7 linked regions of the Homo sapiens genome follow. The protein of the gene in region 3 interacts with the protein of the main gene of each other region in a pairwise test. Each region holds a gene or a part of one and is shown on either strand. Other genes may lie near its edges.

The links.
Region 1: the proteins of MRM1 (region 3) and VSTM1 interact in binary tests that used the Homo sapiens proteins (3 or more experiments, as listed by UniProt).
Region 2: the proteins of MRM1 (region 3) and SPX interact in binary tests that used the Homo sapiens proteins (3 or more experiments, as listed by UniProt).
Region 4: the proteins of MRM1 (region 3) and RNASE10 interact in binary tests that used the Homo sapiens proteins (3 or more experiments, as listed by UniProt).
Region 5: the proteins of MRM1 (region 3) and CMTM3 interact in binary tests that used the Homo sapiens proteins (3 or more experiments, as listed by UniProt).
Region 6: the proteins of MRM1 (region 3) and STATH interact in binary tests that used the Homo sapiens proteins (3 or more experiments, as listed by UniProt).
Region 7: the proteins of MRM1 (region 3) and LPAR3 interact in binary tests that used the Homo sapiens proteins (3 or more experiments, as listed by UniProt).

The regions. Positions count from the first base shown.
Region 1 is NC_000019.10:54,050,398-54,053,897, forward strand, and holds part of VSTM1 (V-set and transmembrane domain-containing protein 1 isoform 1 precursor), read right to left. Parts: intron 2,578-3,500; coding exon of another isoform or gene 2,502-2,577; intron 1,052-2,501; coding exon 1,013-1,051; intron 1-1,012.
Region 2 is NC_000012.12:21,529,296-21,533,447, forward strand, and holds the end of SPX (spexin precursor), read left to right. Parts: intron 1-1,841; coding exon 1,842-1,900; 3' UTR 1,901-3,652; downstream 3,653-4,152. UniProt on the Homo sapiens protein: Plays a role as a central modulator of cardiovascular and renal function and nociception. Also plays a role in energy metabolism and storage. Inhibits adrenocortical cell proliferation with minor stimulation on corticosteroid release.
Region 3 is NC_000017.11:36,604,583-36,607,023, reverse strand, and holds part of MRM1 (rRNA methyltransferase 1, mitochondrial precursor), read right to left. Parts: intron 1-2,441. UniProt on the Homo sapiens protein: S-adenosyl-L-methionine-dependent 2'-O-ribose methyltransferase that catalyzes the formation of 2'-O-methylguanosine at position 1145 (Gm1145) in the 16S mitochondrial large subunit ribosomal RNA (mtLSU rRNA), a universally conserved modification in the peptidyl transferase domain of the mtLSU rRNA.
Region 4 is NC_000014.9:20,511,461-20,514,384, forward strand, and holds the end of RNASE10 (inactive ribonuclease-like protein 10 precursor), read left to right. Parts: 3' UTR 1-2,424; downstream 2,425-2,924. UniProt on the Homo sapiens protein: Secreted proximal epididymal protein required for post-testicular sperm maturation and male fertility. May be involved in sperm adhesion to the egg zona pellucida. Does not have ribonuclease activity.
Region 5 is NC_000016.10:66,611,046-66,614,387, reverse strand, and holds the end of CMTM3 (CKLF-like MARVEL transmembrane domain-containing protein 3), read right to left. Parts: intron 1,780-3,342; coding exon 1,751-1,779; 3' UTR 501-1,750; downstream 1-500.
Region 6 is NC_000004.12:69,998,966-70,003,070, reverse strand, and holds the end of STATH (statherin isoform a precursor), read right to left. Parts: intron 3,405-4,105; coding exon 3,384-3,404; intron 3,292-3,383; coding exon 3,262-3,291; intron 2,209-3,261; coding exon 2,122-2,208; 3' UTR 2,089-2,121; intron 883-2,088; 3' UTR 501-882; downstream 1-500. UniProt on the Homo sapiens protein: Salivary protein that stabilizes saliva supersaturated with calcium salts by inhibiting the precipitation of calcium phosphate salts. It also modulates hydroxyapatite crystal formation on the tooth surface.
Region 7 is NC_000001.11:84,813,207-84,816,706, forward strand, and holds part of LPAR3 (lysophosphatidic acid receptor 3), read right to left. Parts: intron 966-3,500; coding exon 640-965; 3' UTR 1-639. UniProt on the Homo sapiens protein: Receptor for lysophosphatidic acid (LPA), a mediator of diverse cellular activities. May play a role in the development of ovarian cancer. Seems to be coupled to the G(i)/G(o) and G(q) families of heteromeric G proteins.

The sequences.
Region 1 (3,500 bases), on a different chromosome or scaffold from region 3:
TTGAGAATTTTAGAGTTATAACAAACTCTTGATTATATATATTCCTGAAGTACCTACTCTGCGTAGGTCCTGGTCCTACTCCCCAAATGGGTCACTGAAAAATTCACCCCCATTATTCCCCAAATCCCACCCTAGTTTTTCATCATGTCATATGGCAAACAACGCACTCTGTGCTGTTTTACACACCAGCTTCTTCAGAACCCGGAAGCACTTTAGAGGTTATCTCCCCTCATCCTCCACCCCCCAAAACACAGCAGTTTCCCCAATAACATTGAGAAAATGGGCTTTAAAGTTCTTCTAGGCCGGGTGCGGTGGCTCATGCCTGTAATCCCAACACTTTGAGAGGCCGAGGCGGGGGAATTGCTTGAGGTCAGGAGTTTGATACCAGCCTGGCCAACATGGTGAAACCCCATCTCTACTAAAAACAAAAAACAAAAAACAAAACTGAGCTGGATATGGTGGTGGGTGCCTGTAATCCCAGCTATTCGGGAGGCCGAGGCAGGAGAATTGCTTGAACCCAGAACCCAGGAAGTGGAGGTTGCAGTGAGCTGAGATTGTGCCACTTCACGCCACCCTGGGGGACAGAACAAGACTCTTTCTCAAAAAAATAAATAGGCCGTGTGCGGTGGCTCACGCCTGTAATCCCAGCACTTTGGGAGGCTGAGGCGGGCAGATCACAAGGTCAGGAGTTCGAGACCAGCCTGGCCAACATGGTGAAACCCCGTCTCTACTAAAAATACAAAAATTAGCTGGGTGTGGTGGTGCGTGCCTGTAGTCCCAGCTATTCGGGAGGCTGAGGCAGGAAAATTGCTTGAATCCGGGAGGCGAAGGTTGCAGTGAGCTGAGATTGCGCCACTGTACTCCAGCCTTGGTGACAAAGCGAGACTCTATCTCAAAAAACAAACAAACAAACAAACAAACAAATAAATAAAGTTCTCCTTGTGCACTTTAAGCAAAGGTGATCATGAAGCAGATCTCATTGGGAAAAACATCTCCTTTCTAATTATCTTACCTGTTTTCATTGAGGGAGCTTCAAGTTCATCGTGTTTATCTAGAAAATAGGAGGGAAGAAAAGGAATTACACTAATCATACAGGAACCTTGGGGACAGGAGTCCTCACGTCCTACTTATAGACATCCTGTTCTTCTTTGGGAAGCAGAAAAGAGAATGGCTTCTCCATTCCCTAGATGCTCCCTGGGTCCTCAGAGCATGGACAGAGCCTCAGATTACTCTTCTTAATAGTCCTGGAGTTTGATAGTATTTTTAATAACAAAAATATTTATGAATGACCCTGCTAACGCCCCCTCCAGTTTGATTCCTTGCCAGTCTTCTCTATCTTGACAAAGAACACCATTCACCCAAATTCTTTCTTTCTTTTATTTTTTTTGAGTCTTGCACTGTTACCCAAGCTGGAGTGCAGTGGCATGATCTCAGCTCACTGCAACCTCCGCCTCCCGGGTTCAAGAGATTCTCCTGCCTCAGCCTTCCAAGTAGCTGGGACTACAGGCGCCCGCCACCACACCCTGCTAATTTTTGTATTTTTAGTAGAGACAGGGTTTCACCATGTTGGCCAGGCTGGTCTCAAACTCCTGGCCTCAAGTGATCAACCTGCCTTGGCCACTCAGAATACTGGGATTCCAGGCATGAGCCACTGCACCTGGCCTATATTTCTATCTCCACAGTGGCACCATTTAGTCTAAGTTAAAATATCACCTACTTGGCCGGGCGCAGTGGCTCACGCCTGTAATCCCAGCACTTTGGGAGGCCGAGGCGGGCAGATCACAAGGTCAGGAGATCGAGACCATCCTGGCTAACATGGTGAAACCCCGTCTCTACTAAAAATACAAAAAGTTAGCCGAGCGTGGTGGCGGGCCCCTGTAGTCCCAGCTACTCGGGAGGCTGAGGCAGGAGAATGGCGTGAACCCGGGAGGCGGAGCTTGCAGTGAGCCGAGATCGCGCCACTGCACTCCAGCCTGAGGGACAGAGCCAGACTCCGTCTCAAAAAAAAAATAAAAATAAAAATAAAAATGAAATGAAATATCACCTACTCACCAGTCCCTGGCAACCACCAGTTGCTTCTGTGAGTTTGGCTTTTTTAGACTACACATATGAGTGAGATCCTGCAGAATTTGTCTTTCTGAGTCTGGCTTATTTTGTTTAGCATGATATATGCGGAGATGTTGATGAAAGGGTATAAGTTTCCAGTTCTAAGATGAAGAAGTTCAGGTGCTCAGCATGGTGGCAATGGATGTGCTAATTAATTTGACTGTGATAATCATTACACAATGTACAGGTGGATCAAATCATCAGATTGTATACCTTGAATATATACAATCTTCATTTGTCAATTTGATATTTTTAAATTTAAAAAGTCGTATTGCCTGAAACGCACCAACTCTTACTACATCTAGTCCCTTATTTTCCAAAAGCAGCCAGAGGCCGGGCATGATGGCCTGTGCCTGTAATCTCAGATGCTTGGGAGGCTGAGGTGGGAGGATTACCTGGGCCTGGGAGGTCAAGGCTGCAGTGAGCTGTGATTGCACCACTGCACTCCAGCCTGGGCAACCGAGTGGGACCCTGTCTCAAAAAAAAAAAAAAAAAAAAAAGCAGCCAGTGACCCTTCCAGCATATAAATAAAATCATGCCATCCTCCAGCTCAACTTCATCAGTGGGTTCCTGTTCTTTCAAAGCAGACTCTAGGACCAGTTCAAACACCCACAAGATCCTAGATGCTCTAGGCCCTGCCTTATGTCCTCCTTTCTGTGTCTCAATCATTCCAGGAACACTCACACTTCTGAGACTTTGCTTTTGCTGCTCTCTCTCCCTGGAGGGCTGTTCTCCAGATATCGGTGTGGTTGGGTCATTCTCATCCTTCATGCTTGTGGCAGATAGACCCTAAGGGGGCACTCAGGAGACTCAGGAGCCCTGCTTCCTGGTGTTCATGCCTTTGTCTAATCCCCTCACCTTGAGTGTGGAGATCTGTGACTTTCTTCTCACCAATAGCTATGGCAAAGGTGATGGGATGTTATGCTCTTGATTATGTTACATTACATAAAACTCTGTTTGCTAGGGCATTTGCTCTCTCTTTCTTCTCTCTCTCTCAATCTCTCTTCTTGCAAGTGCTGCAGAATCATTCTAGCATGAATCCTACAGCTATAAAGAACCAGATATTGCTATCAACCACAGGAGTGGAGAAATGGACCCTTCCCCAGTCAAGCCTCCAGATGAGCCAGATGAGAACACAGCCCTTGTTGACACCTTGATTGCATCCTTATGAGACCCAAAGCAGAGGACTCAGCTAAGCTGTGCCTGGACTCCTGACCCACATCAACTGTGAGATAATAAATAGGTGTTTCAGGCTGCTAAATTAGTGGTAATTTGTTATGCAGCTGTAGATCACTAATACAATGCCTCTCACAGTTATTCTCCATCTATAATGTGTTTTTTAATTACTCTGATAGCTTGCTCTTATTTCTTTCTTTCTTCCAAAGAAGAATGTG
Region 2 (4,152 bases), on a different chromosome or scaffold from region 3:
ACTTCAGAGCCCGTTAATAAAGGTTGAAATCATGAGAATGGAGATACCTTCTAGGGCTTAGATATAGTGGGAAAAGGGAAGACAATAAAACACCCAAAAATCAAGGGAAATGGGGGGAAATAGTACCAGTGAAGGGACATTAAAAGGAGCAAGCAGAAAGGTAAGAGGAAAATCAGAATAAGAGAGTATCCCAGAATTCATTCAGTAGCTGATGCTACTGATCCCGCTCCTCTTGAAACTTTCCAGGGATGGAAACTATCAGAATGGTTACTATAGCAGAATGGTTAGTAAGAATACAGAACTCAGGGGACATTAAACAGTGTGTCACAGGACTTCCCCCCACCTCCTGCCCAGTGACACAGCTTGCTGCTGCTATTCCATATCTGAAACTTTGTTTACAGAATGTGATACAAGAAAGTAAACTGCAAAGTTAAGAGAAAGCAGGTCTCAGGCTCTGGAGAGCTGGCATGACTCTCAGAACTCTTGCAGTGAAAAGGTGTGAAATAGTTGAATAACGGGTAGAGGATGCTGTATCCAAGGTGTTCTTTTTAAAACCCAAGACATGGAACCCAGCGATTTTTGGAGTCAGTACGAAAAGAGCTCTGATGGAGATTGGTTGATAGTGACGTTTTAGATTTGATTGTTGGGAAAATGTGCAGAGCCAGAAAGGAAAGTGACTTATAATGGACAAGAGAGAGCTAATTTTAAAGAGGAGAGGTATCTTCATTAGCAATTTGAGGAAAGGATGTGATTATAGGTCCCCATCTCAAGTCTTTTTTGGAAAATAAATATGTATTTTTTTAATTATTGAAGTTTTCTAAGTGGATTGTCTCTGAAGATGAAATGACTAATTTTATTAGTCTAAATTGATAGAAAAGTTTTTGATTCCCATATGATAAATTAATCACTAGTCTTCTTTAGTATTTTTATTCTATACTACCTCATTATTATTTAGAAGGCTCTTATTTAGTGAATTATGGTTTCAGTGGAATTTATACAGGGACGCCGTTCTGGTTTTGTTTTGTTTTGTTTTGTTTTCTTCCTTCCCTTTAAAGAGAAGCCCATTTTCTGCAATGGTTTAAAGTGTGCTAGAAATTCAGGTTAAGATGTAACCCAAACATTCAAATTATATTGCAACTAACTGAAAGAATGTGCTTTTATCTAGAGGTGATCTTAGAAGAAATTAGTAGATGCACTTTGCCCCTGGCCACTGCTTCTCCCTACCGTATTGTAACTTTTAGTCATTCTATCCTATTTTTAGAGTCCCAGGAACCTGCTATTGTCTAACTCTTTAAGTATCCCCACCTCAGAAGTGATACCTCATGCTCTAAAGTTTCGCGATCCCAGCCAGCAAACGAGTGCCTCTTCTTTTTGTCTCATTTCCTCCCCAGAACTCTAGCTCCCCTAATAAAAGAACATTTGCAAATGTGTTCCCATGTCATCTTTCCCGAGCAAGATCCATTTTAACAGGAAATATAAAGAGACAGTCCTTTGATGCAAGTGAATTATTTTAATGGTGGGTATTTTAGATATAAGTCAATCTGTGAGAGCAAGACACATGACTTTTGAGATTTTTACCAGACATACCATACTGTAGTTTCAGTCATTATAGAGGTTCAGATGTAAAATATGAATTCCCCAATGTGTCCCAAGCTGAGAAAAAAAGATTTTAAACTGAGCAAATCAAAGCCCATATTGTTTAAATTTTCAGTAGCAGAGTCCATAAGTTAACATAGCTTAGAAGGCTAAATGTTTATTTCCTGAGATTCTCTTTGTCTTACCTTTTCCTCTATTAAAACGCAGAGTGTATATTTATTTTAAAGAATTTTTTTTTCTTACAGATGAAGAAAAAAACTTTGATCAAACCAGATTCCTGGAAGACAGTCTGCTTAACTGGTGAAAATATACTGGATTATGTTTAATTATGGTTCTATTCTCTTTGAAAACATGAACCATGTGAATAAAACCTTTGGACCCTTTTATTCCATTTGTAATCTTAAGAACACACACAGATAGTTTTATTCTTTCAGAAACAAAATATATATAGGATGCTTAGCTGAGAACATCATCTTCTTTCATTGCTTCAGGTCCTGTTTAGATGACCAAAAATGTTTTCAGATCACCTTGTGTCTTACTCTTGAGTTTCTTAGAATATTTATAATTATAAGGCTGAAGACTAAAGTGTTCTTTCCTTTTAACTATAGCCAGTACCTGTCTTGATCTTAGTTGTGTTTTTTTTTCATTTTGTTACCCACTTGCATTTTGTTTTCACTCAGCAGAAATTCTCCTTCTCTGTTTTCCTTTTATCCCATCCCCAAGAATGTGGAAGGAAGGTGAGAAACATGGCAGGATGGGAAATAGGAGAGTATGACTCTCTATAGCTCATCCAGGAGTAATCAATTAAGAAGATAAATTGGATGACTGTGGAGAAGCTCTGTGATAGGAACACTTCAGTGTGGTTGCTGAGAGGAGACAGTCATTGAGGTAGAAGGTTTGCCAAAGATCCAGAGCTCAGAGCTCCCTTTGTGCTCTTTGGGAATTACCTTGCATTCAGTTTAGAAACATGGATCTAAAAGTTACTGGGAAATAAGCAGATGGAGACACACTCTGTTGTTTACGTATTGGAAGAAGGGAACAAGCCAGTTTTGTTAGAGGTAACTCATTTTCCATGACCAAACAGACTCAACAGATTCAAGTACTCTGCTTACTCTAATTGACTAGACTCTAGGTTTTATTTGACATCATAGCATTACATAAATCACTCTGATAACATAAGTGCACAGTAATATGCCTGATCTCTTCCTTTTTAAAAGCCAACTTGAGTTCAGTACCATCTGAATACACACACATGCACATATACCCACACACGCATACACACATACTCCTGTGGCAAACATAATAATGTATTTATTTAGAATTATAATATGACCATCATGTTAATTATTTTTTACCTAATCAGAGTTGTTATTGACAAATGTCATAAGTGGAAAGTATTAATTCTTATTGTCATCAGTATTTAGCCATTATTTAGTAGCTCAAGAATATCTTTATGTGAATGTCTCTGTAACTTGGAATTGCAATTTCACTGTGTTAAGTAATCAGAACTCTGCTTATAAGATTTATCTGTATCTTGTTTCATAATTTAATAATGAAACTAAATTCAAGTTAATGTAATGTTGATCTCCGTCGAAAAATAACTTGTGAGCATTAAAATATCTGTATGGCATTATAATAGGCACCTGTCATTAATTATGATTTGATTTGAAAGTAGACTTACTAGGTAGTGCTTACATCTGATTTATTGAAAATTTTTTCCAAAAGCATTGTCTTTTATTTATACAGTCCTAACCACTTCACCATTAGGAGGGGTGGGACATTAAAAATTATTTACCCATCAGACATAAAATTGTACAAATTGACTATTCAAAATAGTATGTGTATTCAAAGAACACTTTTAACATCTATCTTATGAAATAATTCTTCCTACAACTAACCAGAACAATCTCAAAAATGTCATACTAACCATTGTTTTAAAAGCTGTCTCAATGATCAATAGCTGTTAAAATATAGCTCCAAGTATTCTAAGTACTCAAATTCCTTGAATGTTCTTATGTACAAATATGCTGATTAATTAAAAGGTCCCTCTTCCCAATTTTCTATAACTTTCCAACTCTCTTATGGTGTCTATATTCTGTTTATTTCTAGATTTTTAAAAAACCAAAATGAACAAGTGATCATAGATCAGAAAACCTTCACATTATATGGCTTGTGTTTTAAAATTGGGAATTTTCTGGCTTCAACACACAGATACATGCACTAGAATACCTTGATCTGCAGGGAGCGCTTTCAGCCACTTTCTGCACAGTTCTCATTGCCCTTCTCTTTTTTGCCTCTATAGCCTACCTCGGCTATCTGGCCTCCATCCTGGGCTCTTAATTATTCTTTGTTTTCCAGTAGTTGCCTTCGCTCCCTCAATACCATCATTGTGTTCCTAAGAGAGGAGAGAAGAAGGCGAAGTGACCCTGGCTTGTTCAGATTAGCCTCCAGCTTGCATTTCTTCTTTACCTGGTTATGATAAATGAAAATGTGTATCTTACAATCTTGAATTACATTATTTTATCTTGACCACAAAGAAAGGGAAGTTGGGAATGT
Region 3 (2,441 bases):
AGAATCGCTTGAACTCGGGAGGCAGAGGCTGCAGTCAACCGAGATTGCGCCATTGTACTCCAGCCTGGGCAGCAAGAGTGAAACTCCATCTCAAATTAAAAAAAAAAACAAAAAACCAGGCGCAGTAGCTCACGCCTGTAATCCCAGCACTTTGGGAGGCCGAGGCGGGCGGATCACCTGAGGTCAGGAGTTTGAGACCACCCTGGCTAACATGGTGAAACTCCGTCTCTACTAAAAACACACAAAAAATTAGCTGGGTGTGGTGGCACATGCCTGTAGTCCCAGCTATTTGGGAGTCTGAGGGAGGAGAATCGCTTGAACCCGGGAGGCGGAGGTTGCAGTGAGCTGAGAGCACACCACTGCCTCCAGCCTGGGCAACAAAGCGAGACTCCACTCTGTCTCAAAAAAAAAAAAAAGACTAGCCTGAGCATCATGGTGAAACTCTGTCTCTACTAAAAATACAAAAATCAGCCTGTAATCCCAGCTACTCAGGAGACACGAGGATCTCTTGAGACCAGGAGGCAGACATTGCAGCGAGCTAAGATTGCGCCACTGCACTCCTGCTTGGGTGACAGAGTGAGACCCCCATCTCAAAAAAAAAAAAAAAAATTATCCATCAGAGCCCTGGCCAAGGAAGAGCCCAGCCTTGCCCATACATTCATTTATCTGCTGATCCAGTCAATTAGTCAATAGTTATTAAGCACCTAGCATGGGCTCTGTTCTAGGCACTGAGGACAGGGCACTGAACAAAACAAAACAGACCAAAATCCCAGCCTTGTGGAAGGGCAGGTGGGGATGGACTCACTGAGGTGACATTTGAGTGCAGACCTGAAGGAGAAGGAGGAGCACCGTGCAGACATCTGGGGCAAGAACATTCTAGGCAGAGAGATCAGCAAGCACAGAGGCAGGTGCCTCCCTGGCATGTTTGAGAACAGTAAGGTGGCCAGTGGGAAGAGAGGCGTCAAGACAGAAGAAGGAACAAGAGCCACATGAGGTATGGTCTCCAGGGCTACTGGAAGGACTCTGCCTTTGAATCTGAGCGGTACAGAGGCTTTGAAAGGTTTTGAGCAGAGAAGTAACATGGTATGACTTCAACAGAATCACTCTGCCTGCTGTGCTGAGAGCCAAGAGCAGAAGAAAGGAGGCCAGGTGGGAAGTTTCTGCAATAACGGTCAACAGATGATGGTGACTTGCTTGGGCCAGAGTGGTAGCAGTGGAAACAGGCAGAAATGGTGATAATACGGAAATAACTTTAGTTAAGGATGATGCCAAGGTTTTTGACCTAAACAACCAAAGGGATGGAGTTGCTCCAGAAGGAACAAGCGCTCAGTTTTAGAAATGTTAGGTTTGAAATGCCCGCCTGACAGCAAAACAACAACAACAATAACAACAACTGTGCAGTAGGCAACTAGATGAGTGAATCTGGAATTCAGAACCAAGGTCCAGGCTGGAGTATACACTTGGGCGGGAATTTGAATTCAGATAGTATTTAAAGCCATGAGACTAGATGAGACCAACAAGAAATGAACATATACAGAAAAGAGATCCAGGACCAGGTGAGGTGGCTCACGCCTGTAATCCCAGCATTTTGGGAGGCTAAGGCAGGAGGACTTCTTGAAGCCAGGAGTTTGAGACCAGCCTGGGCAACAAAGTGAGACCTCATCTCTACAAAAAAAAAAAGAAAAAGAAAAAAGAAAGAAAAAAATTAGGTGAGATGGTGTGCACCTGTATCTCCAACTACTCAGGAGGCTGAGGTGGGAGGATGGCTTGAGCCCAGGAATTCGGAGGCTATACTGAGCTGTGATTGTGCCACTGGACTCCAGGCTGGGCAACACAGCAAGACCCCATCTCTCTCTCTCTCTCTCTCTCTTTTTTTTTTTTTTGAGATAGAGTTTCACTCTTATTGCCCAGGCTGGAGTGCAACGCTGTGATCTCGGCTCACTGCAACCTCCGCCTCCTGGATTCAAGCAACTCTTCTGCCTCAGCCTCCCGAGCAGCTGGGATTACAAGTGCCCGCCACCATGCCCAGGTAATTTTTGTATTTTTAGTAGAGACAGGGTTTCACCATTTTGGCCAGGTTGGTCTCGAACTCCTGACCTCAGGTGATCCACCTGCCTCAGCCTCCCAAAGTTCTAGGATTATAGGCGTGAGCCACCGTGCCTGGCCAAGACCCCATCTCTTAACAACCGCTCCCGGCCAAGACCTCATCTCTTTTTTTTTTTTGACACGTCACTCTGTCACTCAGGCTGGAGTGCAGTGGCACAATCTCGGCTCACTACCACCTCCACCTCCCGGGTTCAAGCGATTCTCCTACCTCCGCCTCCCGAGTAGCTGGGACTACAGGCACGAACCACCACACCCAGCTAATTTTTTGTATTTTTAGTAGAGATGGTGTTTCACCGTGTTAGCCAGGATGGTCTTGATCTCCTGACCTCATGATC
Region 4 (2,924 bases), on a different chromosome or scaffold from region 3:
TTTACCCATGTTCTTCCCTGCTGCCCACCCTGAGCCTCTACAACAATCACATAAGACTCTTGGGTTTTGCACAACTGCACTTCTCTATTGCGGATGAAGTTAAAGTGATTCTATCTGTAATGGCTTCTGGAGGACCATGTGGAACAGGCTTCCTTTTCCGAGCTTGGAAAAATTTAGGGCCTAGGTATGGGGGTCTGCTGGGGAGGTGGTGTGGTGCTGTAGAGCAAGATAGAAGATGGGCTGGAGCAAGAATAGAACTCTTTTTTCTTGACCCTTCACTGCCCTTTTCTCTTTCTTCCCACCTTTTACTAGCAGCCTCCTTGCTTGGCTTCTTGTTTTCATCTCTTACCTTTGCTTTTGTCCTTTGCTTCTTTTTCTCCTTACTTTCTCTGTTCTCCTTTTCCTCTTCTTTTTCTTTTTGGGCCCGCTCTTCTCTTTATCTGGATCCTTTTAGAGATTCAGTCAGCCGATACTGATCACTTATGCTATGTTGGTCCTATAGTCAGTCATGCAAGCAGATGTTCGTCCTATAGTCAGAGTCTGGCACAGGGAGTTAGAGGGGGGTGGGTCAAGAGAATGAGAAAAAGAGAGAGGAAAAGAGAGAAAGAGAAAGAGAGAGTGAGAAATCTTTTTTGAATTATGTCCAGAAGCAGAATAGTGCTCATATGAGGTGCCCAGTAGATGTGGGATGAATGGGATGGGAGACAGTCTTTTTCTCATTTAGCATCGTTTCCGCTTTATTGCTCTAAAGAACAAGAAAGTTAGTGAAAGAATAATTTCAGCAGAGAAGGTATCAAACTTAATCAAGGAGAAGAGAAGCTGTGTGGCTGGATACACAGAAGATGCAAGTGGCTGCCCTCAGCCTATTTCCTCTAAATTCAAATGAGAAATAGTGTAGTTAGTCATGCATAGGGAGAAGAGGAATCTGAGAACATAGCTGTAAGGATTCACCGTGTGACTGAATTTTGAGATTTCCTTCCCCTAGAGTTTTTCTCTGCTTCACATTCCTAGACTATTATAGACCCAAGTCAGGGACATACATAAATGGGAGACTGAAGGGAAGAACGGTTTGCTTTACTCTGACCTGGCTTGCATTTTCCTGTTCTTTCTGTCTTTATTCTCTTTATCCTTCCTGTTTTCACAGACAGGCAACCACTTTAGTATCCTCCTAGACGTCCCTGATTCAATATATCCCTTATACCTCTGACTCACTTCCAGCAATAACCTCTTAGGAACAGTGTTGTCTCCCAGGGAATTCTAATAATAGTGGACAGGAGGTATGTCTCCATCTGTGGGCTGGCCTGATGTTTTAGAGGTGGTAATGAAGTGGTGAAAGGTGATGACCCAGCCAAGGCAGATTCCTATGCTTCCTGAGGGCGAATCCCTCTCCGGGGAAAGAGACAAAAGATTATCTAAGGTAAGGGGGAAAAAATGAGAAATAGGATGGGAAGAGGGGAAAGAAGAATAGGTGTCAGAGAAAATCGGCCACGTTAGCAATCTGTCTGGTAGGTAAACCAAGGATTTAGGAATGAAATGTGAAAGATCTCCATTGTATGGAGTGAATTATTAAGAGAATGGAATTAGCCAGGGATTAAAGCCTATATTCTCTAGTATTCAGATGTGGCTCCATCCTCTTCAGCTTCCGTCCAGCTTCTCTCCCTAAGCGTTCCGGCACTGTTTGATGGGCATACTCATCTCCTCCGGGTCTTCACTTTGGGCAAATCTCAGTGGGTCATGTTTTTCTTTTGTTTTGTTTTGTTTTGTTTTTGTTTTTTTTGTTTAATCTGACCACGTAGACTATCGCAGGAAAGCAATTTACAAAATACTCCACAGGCGCCTAGTGGCTCAAGCAGGAAAATATAGCTTCCATGGCTGATAACAGGGTGACAAGGCATTGTGGGGACCTCACCTCCCAGGGGCAGAAAATTAACTCACTGTAGCTCAAATTCTGCCTCATTCACAAGACTTTCACCGAGTCTTCTAATTCCAATGTAGCTTCCTCTCTACACTTCCAGGATCTGTGTTGAGCCCATATGACAGATCCCAGTCCCTTATCTACAGTACCCAAATCTCTGAAGCTCTGAAAATGGAAAGTTTTTTTCAAAGTGGCCCCAAAACTCATTTAGATATGACACCTGACTAGATTGACAATGTGAGGCTATTTATCTTGTTTATTTATGCTATGTGACCATTACATATTTCACTGTGGAAATATCACTGTGTTTTGTTATGAGTAGGTCCTTCTAAGAGTGTGTTAGTCATATATGATATAAACATACACACATTAACATACAATAGTGCTTTTTAAAATCTGAAAATGTTGGCCAAAATGCATTGGCCCCAAAAGTTTCAAGTAAGAAATTGTGGGATCTATATATACTATTTAATTAGCCTTAATTAATTTGAGTATACTGGATATGATCCTAGTTAGGCCACTAGCACCTTTGTGGAAGGATCTGTATTATAAGTTTCTTCTATATTCTTCATTGACACATTTATTAATCAATGACTATCTACCTATGGGCCAAGGGATGTCTCCTCTACTGTTTGGAAGACACTCAAATATTGTCTTCAAAACACTCTGTACAAGTTTTTGGCCAGGTGTGGTGGCTTATGCCTGTAATCCTAACACTTTGGGAGGCTGAGGTGGGAAGAACACTAGAGCCCAGGAGTTCAAGACCAGCCTGGGCAACGTAGGGAGACCTCATCTCTACAAAAAATAGAAAAATTAGCCAGGCGTGGTGGCACATGCCTGTAATCCTAGCTATTTGGGTTAGGCTAAGGTGTGAGGATTGCATGAGCCCCAGAGATTAAGGATGTAGTGAGCTATGATTGCACCACTGCACTCCAGCCTAGGTGACAGAGTGAGACCCTGTCTCAAAAAAAAATTTTTTTTAAGTTGTTCTGAGCTTTGCTGCTTATTA
Region 5 (3,342 bases), on a different chromosome or scaffold from region 3:
GCCCCAGGGTTCCGGCTGCCTGAGGCTGCCGTGAGACACTATCCTGATGTGTAAGTGAGAGGGCCCTGGGCCAGTTACCCGACCTCTGTCTCAGTTTCTTTGTTTATAAAACAGGGTAGTGTGAGAACTAGAGCAGGGGTCCCCAACCCCTGGGCAGTGGACTGGTACCATGGGACCTGTTAGGAGCCAGGCTGCACAGCAGGAGGTGGGTGGCAAGCAACGGCATTACCGCCTGAGCTCTGCCTCCTGTCAGATTGGCAGTGGGATTAGGTTCTCATAGGAATGCGAATCCTATTGTAAACTGTGCATGCTACGGATCTAGGTTGTGTGCTCCTTATGAGAATCTAATGCCTGATGATCTGAGATAGAACAGTCTCATCCTGAAACCATCCCCTCCCACCCTCACCCCAACCCACCCGCCAACCCCCAGTCCATGGAAAAACTGTCTTCCACGAAACTGGTCCCTGGTGCCAAAAAGGTTAGGGAAATAAAGGATTAAATGGTAGTCAGATTTCACGTGTATTTTTGCTAAAACTGAAAGCTGTCAGGATCCACATTGGTGTTACCAGTTTGTACTGAAGCCTGATACAATACCCAACAGTATTGCTCTGGTTTTTTCAAGCACACACTCCAAGCAAGTGGTCAGTCTGGCTTAATTCATTATGGCTTTTTTTCAGGGTAAGAGATTCACACGCAAGAGAATAAGGCTACAAATGCTCCAAACATGGGTCCAGAACTCTGGCTCTTTTGTGAGGCCTAGAGTCACAGAAAATGCCATCTGTTAAGAAGCTGCTTTTGCATAAAAAAATATAAAAAGTTACAAAATTCCATCAAAGACAGATACACAGTATAAATCGTTAGGTGAACACAGAAGGCTGGTCTCATCTCCTGCAGTGGCCCATAGACCTGCCCTGAGGTCTGGAAGTTCACTGTCCTGAGGGTCCAGGAACTCCTGCCTGCTGGCTGGGCTCTAGGAAGAAGGAGGGTTTGGCTGGGCCCGCCCAGCTCCCCATGACACTGTCACTGTGATGCCACTGTTGTACCCTCTGTCTTCTGGACCAGTCAGTCTATGAGCTCTTCTTTGAAACAGTCTTAGACCCAGAATGGTCATCTCACCCCCAGAAGACATGGTTTCCAAGGGTGGGAGGTGTTAGTTATGGGTGCCGAGCCCCACTTCCTGGGCGACAAGGCAAAGGTCAATTTCTCCCTGCTTCAAGAATGAAGAGGGAACTGGTGCTCCTTGAACCAAAGATTCTTGGAAGGGTCATTGTCACCAAAGTGGCTGGTGTGGGCAGGAGCACCAAGTGCAGACAAACCCACCGGGGCCTGGCGGGGCAGCCCTGTCATGGTTTCTGTCTTTGTTCCTGTTAGTGAAACAGAAGACCCCCGACCCCCGCCACCTAGCAGCATGGAACACCTGCTGCCCAGATACAGACAAGGCTCTGCTTTGTCTCCTTGTGCTGGTTTTTGGCAGAGACGTTAAAGGGCTGAAGGCCTGTGGGACAGAAATGGGGAGAAGGAGTGGGATACCCAAGATGCCCTCATACGCAGCGTGGTCAACAGTGCTGAGCTGAGGGGCAAGCCTGGTAGGCTGGGCTCAGGCAGAACCTGAGGCTGTAGGGGGCCTGCTGTGTCCGCAGCCCCCTCTGCAACTCAGAAGTCCAGGCCTCCGCTCCAACGCCAGCGACCCCTGTGAGGCGCAGGGGTGGAGGCCTGTGTGGCTCAGGTTGCCAAGGCACCCGCCAGGCCTTCAGTCAGAGTCCGAGTCGGAATTCTCTTCTGAAAGGAAAGCAGAGAGGATGCTTGGCAGGAGGCTCAGGGCAGCGGTGCCTGGGAACGGTCTCTGGGGAAGCACAGCTGGGTTGCTGGCAGGAGCCTGGGTGCAGGCCTCCTGCAGCTGACTCTACCGTTCCCAGTGATCGCTGGCATCAGGGCAGGCCGCGGGCCTGAGGCCCTCCACAGGCAGCAGCCACTTTCTCTCTCTCTTTTTTTTTTGTTGTTGTTTTTTGTCTTTGAGACAGAGTCTTGCTCATCACCCAGGCTGGAGTGCAATGGCGGGATCTCGACTCACTGCAACTTCCTCCCTCCCGAGTAGCTGGGATTATAAGCGTGTGCCACCACACCTGGCTAATTTTTGTACTTTTAGTAGAGATGGGCTTTCACCAGGCTGGTCTTGAACTCCTGACCTCAGGTGATCTACCCACCTCAGCCTCCCAAAGTGCTGGGGTAACAGGCGTGAGCCACCGTGCCCGGCCGCAGAAGCCACTTGCACCTCCAGGGTGTGGGTGCGGGTGCAGGTGGGGGTGTTTCCACCCCAAGACTGAAGCCCAGGTGCCCCTTCCTCAGGCCCAGCCCCTCCGGAGTCTCCCTGGGCTTTTCTCAGCTGGGTGGGTCAGGGCTGTACCTCTGCATTCCAGCTCTACCCCCACCCCCAGGTTCAGCAGGACAAGGTGAGGACAGCTATTTTCTTGTCCCCCAAACTAAAATATACTGGAAAATCAGCAAGCCTCTTTTTAGCCATTTTATATCTTCAATCCCCCTCCCCCAATCCTTGTTTAATATTGTAATCAGAAACAATTTTATAATGGTAAGGGCCTGCCTATGAGGTGTACCTCGAGGGTTCCTGAAATCCCAGTTCTGTCTCGGAGCTCTGTAGAGCCTTCTGGAACCTCCACCCCAGAAGGAAAAGCACCAGAGTCACTAACCCCCAACCCCACCCCAGTGCTGGTTGCTACTTCCTGATGCTCATCCCCTCCCTGGCCAGCCTCTGTCTCTCAGAACCCCAGTCAGTCCCCATGAGCTGTCGCTGGCTCATGGCTGGGCTCAGGGCTGGGGTGTGGGCAGCCTAGTCCCTAAACCCCAGCTCTGTCCCTCACTCCGGTTCCTGGGCTGCACTCGTCAGATTTTGTGGGTTTTGCTATATTCAATTTTTTCCCCCCGAGATGGAGTCTCACTCTGTCGCCCAGGCTGGAGTGCGATGTCTTGATCTCAGGTCACTGCAACCTCTGCCTCCCATAGGTGATTCTCCTGCCTCAGCCTCCCAAGTAGCTGGGATTACAGGCGGGCACCACCATGCCTGGCTGATTTTTGTATTTTTAGTAGAGATGGGGTTTCACCGTGTTGGCCAGGCTGGTCTCAAACTCCTGACCTCAAGTGATCCACCCGTCTCGGCCTCCCAAAGTGTTGAGATTACAGGCGTGAGCCACTGTGCCTGGCTGCTATATTCAATTCTAACATATAAGTCAAGAATAATTTTACAGCAAAATAATTGTTACATATGTGAAACTCTCCAAATAGTAAAACAAAAAAAACAAAATAAAACCACCCAAGTTTCCACTGACG
Region 6 (4,105 bases), on a different chromosome or scaffold from region 3:
TCACTATGTCAGAGAGTCTCTTGTTGACTATCCTGTTTAAATTTGTTTCTGTGCCCTAGACATGCTTATACTTCTTTAGCACACTTATCATTGCCTAAGATATGTACTATTTATTTACTTTGTATCTGCATCTCCCAACTACAATGTAAACTCTCCAAAGACAGGACTTTTGTCTCTCTTTGTCTGCAGCATCTAGAAGAGGACCTGACAGCTGGGGTCATTCAATAAATATTTCTTGAATAAAAGTCATTGCTGAAAAACTAATGGAGGGCATTAGATGGTTTACATGCAGAGTGCCTACATACTGCTGTAGAGTGACATGGTGGTTATCTTCTGACCTACAGGGACTGAGATAAAAAATGTGAGTGCTTTGGAGGCTTAGCAACTGTGGTGTGGCAAAGGAAACCATGGGCAAATCAAATCTTGGCATAAATAGCTCTAATAATAAGTGAGTTTGAGTACCATGTTTGTAACATATAAAATATGACAGACTAAATTATAAATAAGGACCTCTGACATTATGGGCTTCAATCTGTGCTAGTCAAACTGGGAAAGAAGATGATGAAAGAAATCATTATTCCTATAAATAGAAAAGAGAAAAATAAGGAGCATACATGTAAAAATGTGCTTGAAATTTATTGCTTTTAGAGAAGTGATTTCTATTATTCAGAAACAGTACTGAACACAGCTTAACAGTTTAAATTGCAATTATATCATCAAGTGACAATTGAAAAGGCAAGTATCCTGAAACAAAGAGTATACAGTAAATTATAGTGTTTTTCATTTGCATTGCTCTTTGATGATTCTTCAAAAAGTGGTAGTAGTGTGATATGGTATGAAAGATGAGAATATGGATGTAGAAGTCGTATTTGCCAATCAAGCCTGCACAGAAAAAAAAAAATAACAGATTATCTGTAAAATTTTTACCCCTGTAAACACATTTATATTCTGGCCTGGTACAGAGTAGATATTATATACAATTATAGTTTATAAAATGCAGGGCCCAAAATAATATTTGACACAGAGTAGACAATTAAACAATTATTAAATTGGTTCCTGAATAAATAAAAATTATCATTCAGCATCTACAATTTAAATTATTTTTCAATCATCATACTATTTTATTCTTCTACTTAAATATAGCCTACACATTTCATTTATATGCATTTCCTCTAAATAATATTTCAATACATCTTTTCTTGATTAAATGTCATCAGCTATTACCTAAAACCTAGGGGATCAAGTTCAGGCTCTTCCCTGTATCACTAATGGCAATAGAGAATTGAATTGGAATATAATCTCCCAAATGCACTGAAAAATAATTGAAATCCTTTGGACTATTTTAACTTTGTAGAACAATCCTCCCTTATCTCCAAGAGTTTGCTCTATTTTGTTTTGAAATATTATTTTTTCATAGAATTTAGAACATTTAATGTTGTGTAGAGATAGGTAAAACTGACTTTCTAAAAAGAAATTGATAACATTTCCATATTTTCTTGTTAGCATTATGTTAATAATTTCTATAGTAATTGCTCAGTAGAGTTACTTAGGGTACAAAATGCAAATTTCTCACAAGTTCCCAGATGGTTCCCAGATGGAAGCTTCTCCAAAGATTGCATTTTGGGAGTGAAAACTTTAAGCAACACCTAGGTACAGATTTAGTGGCAGGGAAGCCCTGCAGTTATAACTACAAACCTTTCTGATCAAGAGATTTTATGTGATATGTCTTTCAAAAGTGTCACCAATTCTAAAAAGCACATTTAAGTGTTATCATAATACACAATTTTTTGACGAGAAAACTGAGGTTCAGGAGCATTAGGAGTAGTTCAAAGTCATGAAACTAGTAGTTGTCAGGGCCAGCATACAAACCCTGGTGTCCCCCACTCTATAACACTGCCTTCTAACCATAGCAGGACAGAGACTATCTCAGAAGCATTTATATAAATTAATACATTTCAAGGAGCTATACAGCTGGCTGCTTTCTTATACTGGAACTGCTGTTGGTTTAATGTCTTGTTTTTGTTTTTCTTCTTTTAACTGTCAGCACTGATACAGAAAGTAAAAAAAATGTCACTAAACCCATCTTACCTCAATAATCATGTCCTGCAGTTACTGATGATATTAAAAGGTATATTGTTGGTATTGTGGTTGGTATGGTTGTGGGTATAGTGGTTGTTCTGGAACTGGCTGATAAGGGCCATACCCATACTGTATACACACAAGGAGAAAGAAAATTGCAGAAAATTGAGATAATGACAGTGCAAGCGTTTTTATTAGAAGCTTAGATTGTTAAAGTTTTAGGAACTTACATATTACTTATAAGATTTTTTTCCAAACTTTCAATTAGATTTTTCTTTTTGGTTATAAACACATTTTAAAAGCAGGTAAAAATGATTGAGTGTTTACCTTTGTACTGCATGTTCACAGTTTTGTGGTTTTATTTCACATGCAGGAACACCGATTATAGGCTATCACTCCAAAGAGGTTTTAAATTTTCTTCAAAATACTACCTCCCAGCAACCATTTTGCCCACCTTTGAGTATTATGGGAAGGAGACATTTACTAAATTCAGCTTATGTGGTGTTTCTTCAAGTCACTCTTTTAATGAGCTTACTGTCTCTTACGATTCCTACATTCCTTAATACTTCTTCCTTCTGTTAACACAAATAACCATCATCCCTTTTAGAGTATCTTTTTATTTGGTGTTATTTTAATCCATGTATTCACTATATTAGTTAGGGGATCTTTTGCAACCCTATCACATTGACATTATATGTCAACATACTGGGACATCAAGATACATACATTAAGAAAAATGTTAAATAAATGAAATTTGCTATCTCATTTATCATGACCTGTTTAATTTAATGAGTTTATCACCGTCAAAAAAAATCAGAAGGTGCAAACTTACCATATTTTATGTGTAATTATCAGCCTTTATGCTCCATGAGGCATATATTATAATTAACAGAATTAGAATTTCAACTATTTTTTAGGTCAAAGTGATTACTTAGGAGATGATACTTGAGGGCTCAGGGAGTAACTGGTTTCTTCAGGTTGGCACTATGAGTTTCAACTTAAATGTTGTTAGGACACAATACATTTGTGACTGTTACCTGTGTATCATAAATAGAGGAAAACAAAGCACACTTTTGCAACTACTACACATATTTGAGAAATAAGTATTGGTTCTTCTAGAAGAATAAGTAATCAGAGAACACAATTTATTTGGACTACACAGCATTATCAGAGAACACTTACACCGAATCTTCCAATTCTACGCAAAAATTTCTGTGAAAAATGAAGAAAAGTTTAATAATTCAATACAAATGTAGGGAGGACAAAACTGAAAACAAGTTTTCCAGTGAATGAAAATGACTCACCTCTTCAGATGAATCAGCTCCCTTAGAAAACAGAAAATTAGACAATAGTTAGTATCTTAATGTTATAATTCCAGATTGAGTACAAAAATGAACTCAGCAGCTACAGTTGTGAGTAAACAGGATGTAGGCAAATCATCGATAGACACTAAATTAGTTATTTTTGCTTCATGACATCTTTAAAATGAGTTAAGAGTATGCTTTTCTGTAATTAGTGTGCTATATTCAAATATAAATTTATTTGGATTTATACTTGTTTTGTGTGTAAAAGGGAGTAAATGGTTATCATTGGTGAATGAAAAGTGAAACTTTGTATTTTTTCATAAGAATATGTTTTCAGCAGCTCAAAGGCTACTTACACATAACTTTTATTTACTGACAGAGACAAGCATTATGTTTTTCTCTGTTTTCCTTACATTTTTATTTTTTATTTTTTAGACACCTATCCTTTTATAACAAATAATGTGGTATACTGTGATTTTATAATCAAATTAGTTTTTGAAATATCTGTTAGAATTTACCAGGTAAGTTGAACTATTTTTATTCTTTCATGGCCAGTTTCCTACTAATGTCATAGAAAAGGGACAGGAGAAATAGAAGGAAGTAGAGTAGAAGAAAGAGCTCCAGAGAAGTCAAGTGCTTTACCTAGTGATACATAGTAGTAAATGACAATAAAAGCTGGGAACTCATAACATGTCATAGATCTGAAGTTTTGTTTTATAGTT
Region 7 (3,500 bases), on a different chromosome or scaffold from region 3:
GGAGGACCATACTAAGGCCTTTTTCAGGTCAAAAAGGGTTTTCACATTGACCTTTTTTACTTTTAAGTATTTTTCCTCAGAATGTTCCTTCAGTTAAAAATCAGGTTTAATCTGGAGCTCTTACTGATTTTTCTTTGATTCCTACTGAACACCTAGCTACTGGCCATGGTTTCTTTGAGGAAAAAAACACCATTGCTGAAGCATTTCTAAACATTTTTAATGCATGCAGAAAGAACTACATAGACTCTCCAAGCAGCTATATAAGGTGGCTCAAGTAACATTATGATTTATTTTGGTCTAAGCCCTTTCATAACGTCCTTTTAAAATACAAAGAGAATGGCTACGAAATGGTGCCAGAACCCAGAAGGCCCAGCTGGACTGACAGGAGCTCTGAGCAGTTCATAGGACAAGCAGGGACCCGCCGAACCTCTCCCGTTTCTGTGCTTTCTCTAAATGCAGCAGGTCCTCTCTTTACTGCCCATGCTTTTAAACTATGAAAAAAAATTTTTTAAAGAAATCTAGCAGTGATTAATGGAGACCTCAAATAACACTGTACATGGGCTTTGTTAGAGACAGGTAATCATTCTTAACAGCTCTTTTCCCAGAGGAGGCCTGGGTGGGCCGAGAGGCATCCAGAGTTTAGGAAGTGCTTTTATTGCAGACTGCACCTTGGCTAATACTATCCTCTATGTACTGGCTGCCTGTGTCACTCCTGCTGAGGACTGTGGAGGGGATGCGAGAGGGACGCCTCTCTGGGTTCTCCTGAGAGAAGCAGCAGATCATCTTCTTCATGGTGCCATACATGTCCTCGTCCTTGTAGGAGTAGATGATGGGGTTCACGACGGAGTTGAGCAGCGCCAGCAGCAGGAACCACCTTTTCACATGCTGCACGCCACACTGCCTGCAGTTCAGGCCGTCGAGGAGCAGAACCACCAGGCCCGGGGTCCAGCATACCACAAACGCCCCTGCAAGGAGAGAAGAGGAGGCAACAGATGCTCAGACCTTAGGGGACTTATTCAGGTTTTCTTCTCTCCCAGCCTTTAGCCAGTGGCATCAAGGGGCCCTCATGATTTGTTTTGACAACTGCAAGGCAAACTTCCACCTACCATCTGAGCATTTGAGACCTACGCTTGGTACAGGCAAATAGGTGGGAACCTCCTTGACTATCAATCACATTTCATTTCACTTTCTTTTCTGCTTACCCAGGTCTTGTGATTATGAGAGACTCACATTTACATTCTGCTTAGGAGGCAGTGCACATGCATGATCTCCGTTAGTTCTCTGAACCACACTGGGAGGCTTTGTTGCACTCATTATCCACATTGGACAGATAAGAAAACCAAGGCCCAATTCTAGGGGGAGATGAGAGGAGAACTCTCTGACTCCAGGGCTCCCATACTTCACCCTACATTCTGCTGTTACAGAAATCAGATTTTCTAAATGTGCTCTTGAAAATAAGACACAATGAGTCTACGGCATTCTTCTAGTAGTTTAACCAAATCACCTGCTCATAAATTTCATTCTTCATAAATTCATGTGGATGCTTAGTAAGCACTATATTCTTTTTGACATATTCACGGGCCATCTGCATAATCATCTGCTCTACATTTAGATTTTTTGGTCAGAAATAAATCTTTCATGATGAGATAGTTAAAAATCTACTTTTCAGACTCTGCAATTGAATATGAACCGTAGTCTCTTCTGAGTCTCTAGCCACAGCATCATACTTACCTTATCTCTAAATTTCATGATATTTTTCTCCCATTAAGACATGGGTCCACTATTTCCCTACTATTATCATAACCTCAGATAGCAATAACGACTCATCTTTATACAGCACTTACTATAAGCGAGGCACTGGTGCAAACGCTTTCCTTGATTAACTCACAGGACCACACTATGACATTGGCATTATTATTATCCCCAGGAAACCGAGGCACAAGAGAAGTTAAGTAACTTGCCTATGATCAAATAACTCTTAAGAGACACGATTTTGAACAGAGGCCGTCTTTCTCCACAGGCTGTGCCCTGGGCCACTATATGACCCGCCTCTGTAGTATGATGTGGTTGCTTTCGGCGAATGTCCTTGTCATTTCTAAATGCACTTGCTTGTCCACTCATAAATATTCATCTGAAGCTAACAATGTGCCAGGAGCTGTACTAGACAGTGAGTGAGGTGAAGGCCACGCACTCAGGGAGCTAAAATACTAACAGAGAAGACGACAAACAAGCAAGTCTATAGATGATATCACCAACTACTCTACTTGTTAGAATTAGTTCTGCATAGTATTTCTCTTGTTGCTTTATCTTACTTCTAAGAGATATAATACCAAGCAGGGAAAGACAAGGATTATAAAGAGGCAGTGTAAGGCAGGGAAGAGCCACGAACTTTGGGGTCAGACATGTATGCACAGCTCAACCTATGAGTGACCCGAATTATGGGAATTACTTCACTTTTCTCAGCCTCCATTCCCTCCTTTATACAATAAAGTTAATAAACCCAACTATGTGAGGTGGTAGTTGTGAGGATCAGAGGTCATGGAAAGTGGTACCCAACACTGTGGTGGGTTCACTGAGCAGCAGTTATCATGAGGTGCTCTGTTTCCACAAAAAATATCTATATGTTTAGTAGCTAGCAGGGGGGTTGAATTCCTTATTTCATAATTACGGTTCAGCAGTGGTTCCCTTTTTTCTCCACCTTGTATTATTATTTTCGGTCTGGCTGATATATGTGAATAAAGAACTGGACTTGGAGATAAGAGATCAGAGATTTGGGTTCTAATTCTTCACTTACTGTACAACTCTGGGAGACCCATGTCATTGCGCTGGGCTCAGCTTCCTCAGCTGTAAACTGAGGACTGACTTTAGGCTAGGTCTGAGTTTTTCTAGTGGTGGGTCAGAACTTGTTAGTGGGTGTGCAATCAATGTGACAGATTCAGACTGGTTTTTTGTTTTATTCAGACTGGTTTGAAACAAGTGAAGGAACTGGATGGGCAGCCAAGTTTGCAACTACCAACTTGAGAATTCATATTAGTAAGTTTTTAGCCATACCACCCGATAATTGTGTCTGAGAAACAAACAAGTCAAATTTGTTTGAGTTTTATGGAGAGTTAAAAGCCACAGTTTCACAGAATTCGGCAGTTTCCTACTTGGAAAAGAGTTCAGAAGCCGCTTAGCCTGATCTTTCATTCATAGGAAAAAGGCCTTCCCTTTGTACATCTCAGAACAATCCAGGCAAAGGAAATGCCCTGGTCAAGGGAGGCTCTTCAACTGCTGAACAATGGTTTCTTCTCTTAAATAACTTCATTTAGGCTGGGCGTGGTGGCTCACATCTATAATTCCAGCACTTTGGGAGGCTGAGGTGGGTGGATCACCCAGGTCAGGAGTTCGAGACCAGCCTGGCCAACATGGTGAAACCCTGTCTCTACTAAAATGCAAAAAATTAGCTGGGCATGGTGGCAGGCACCTGTAGTCCCAGCTGCTTGGAAGACTGAGGCAGG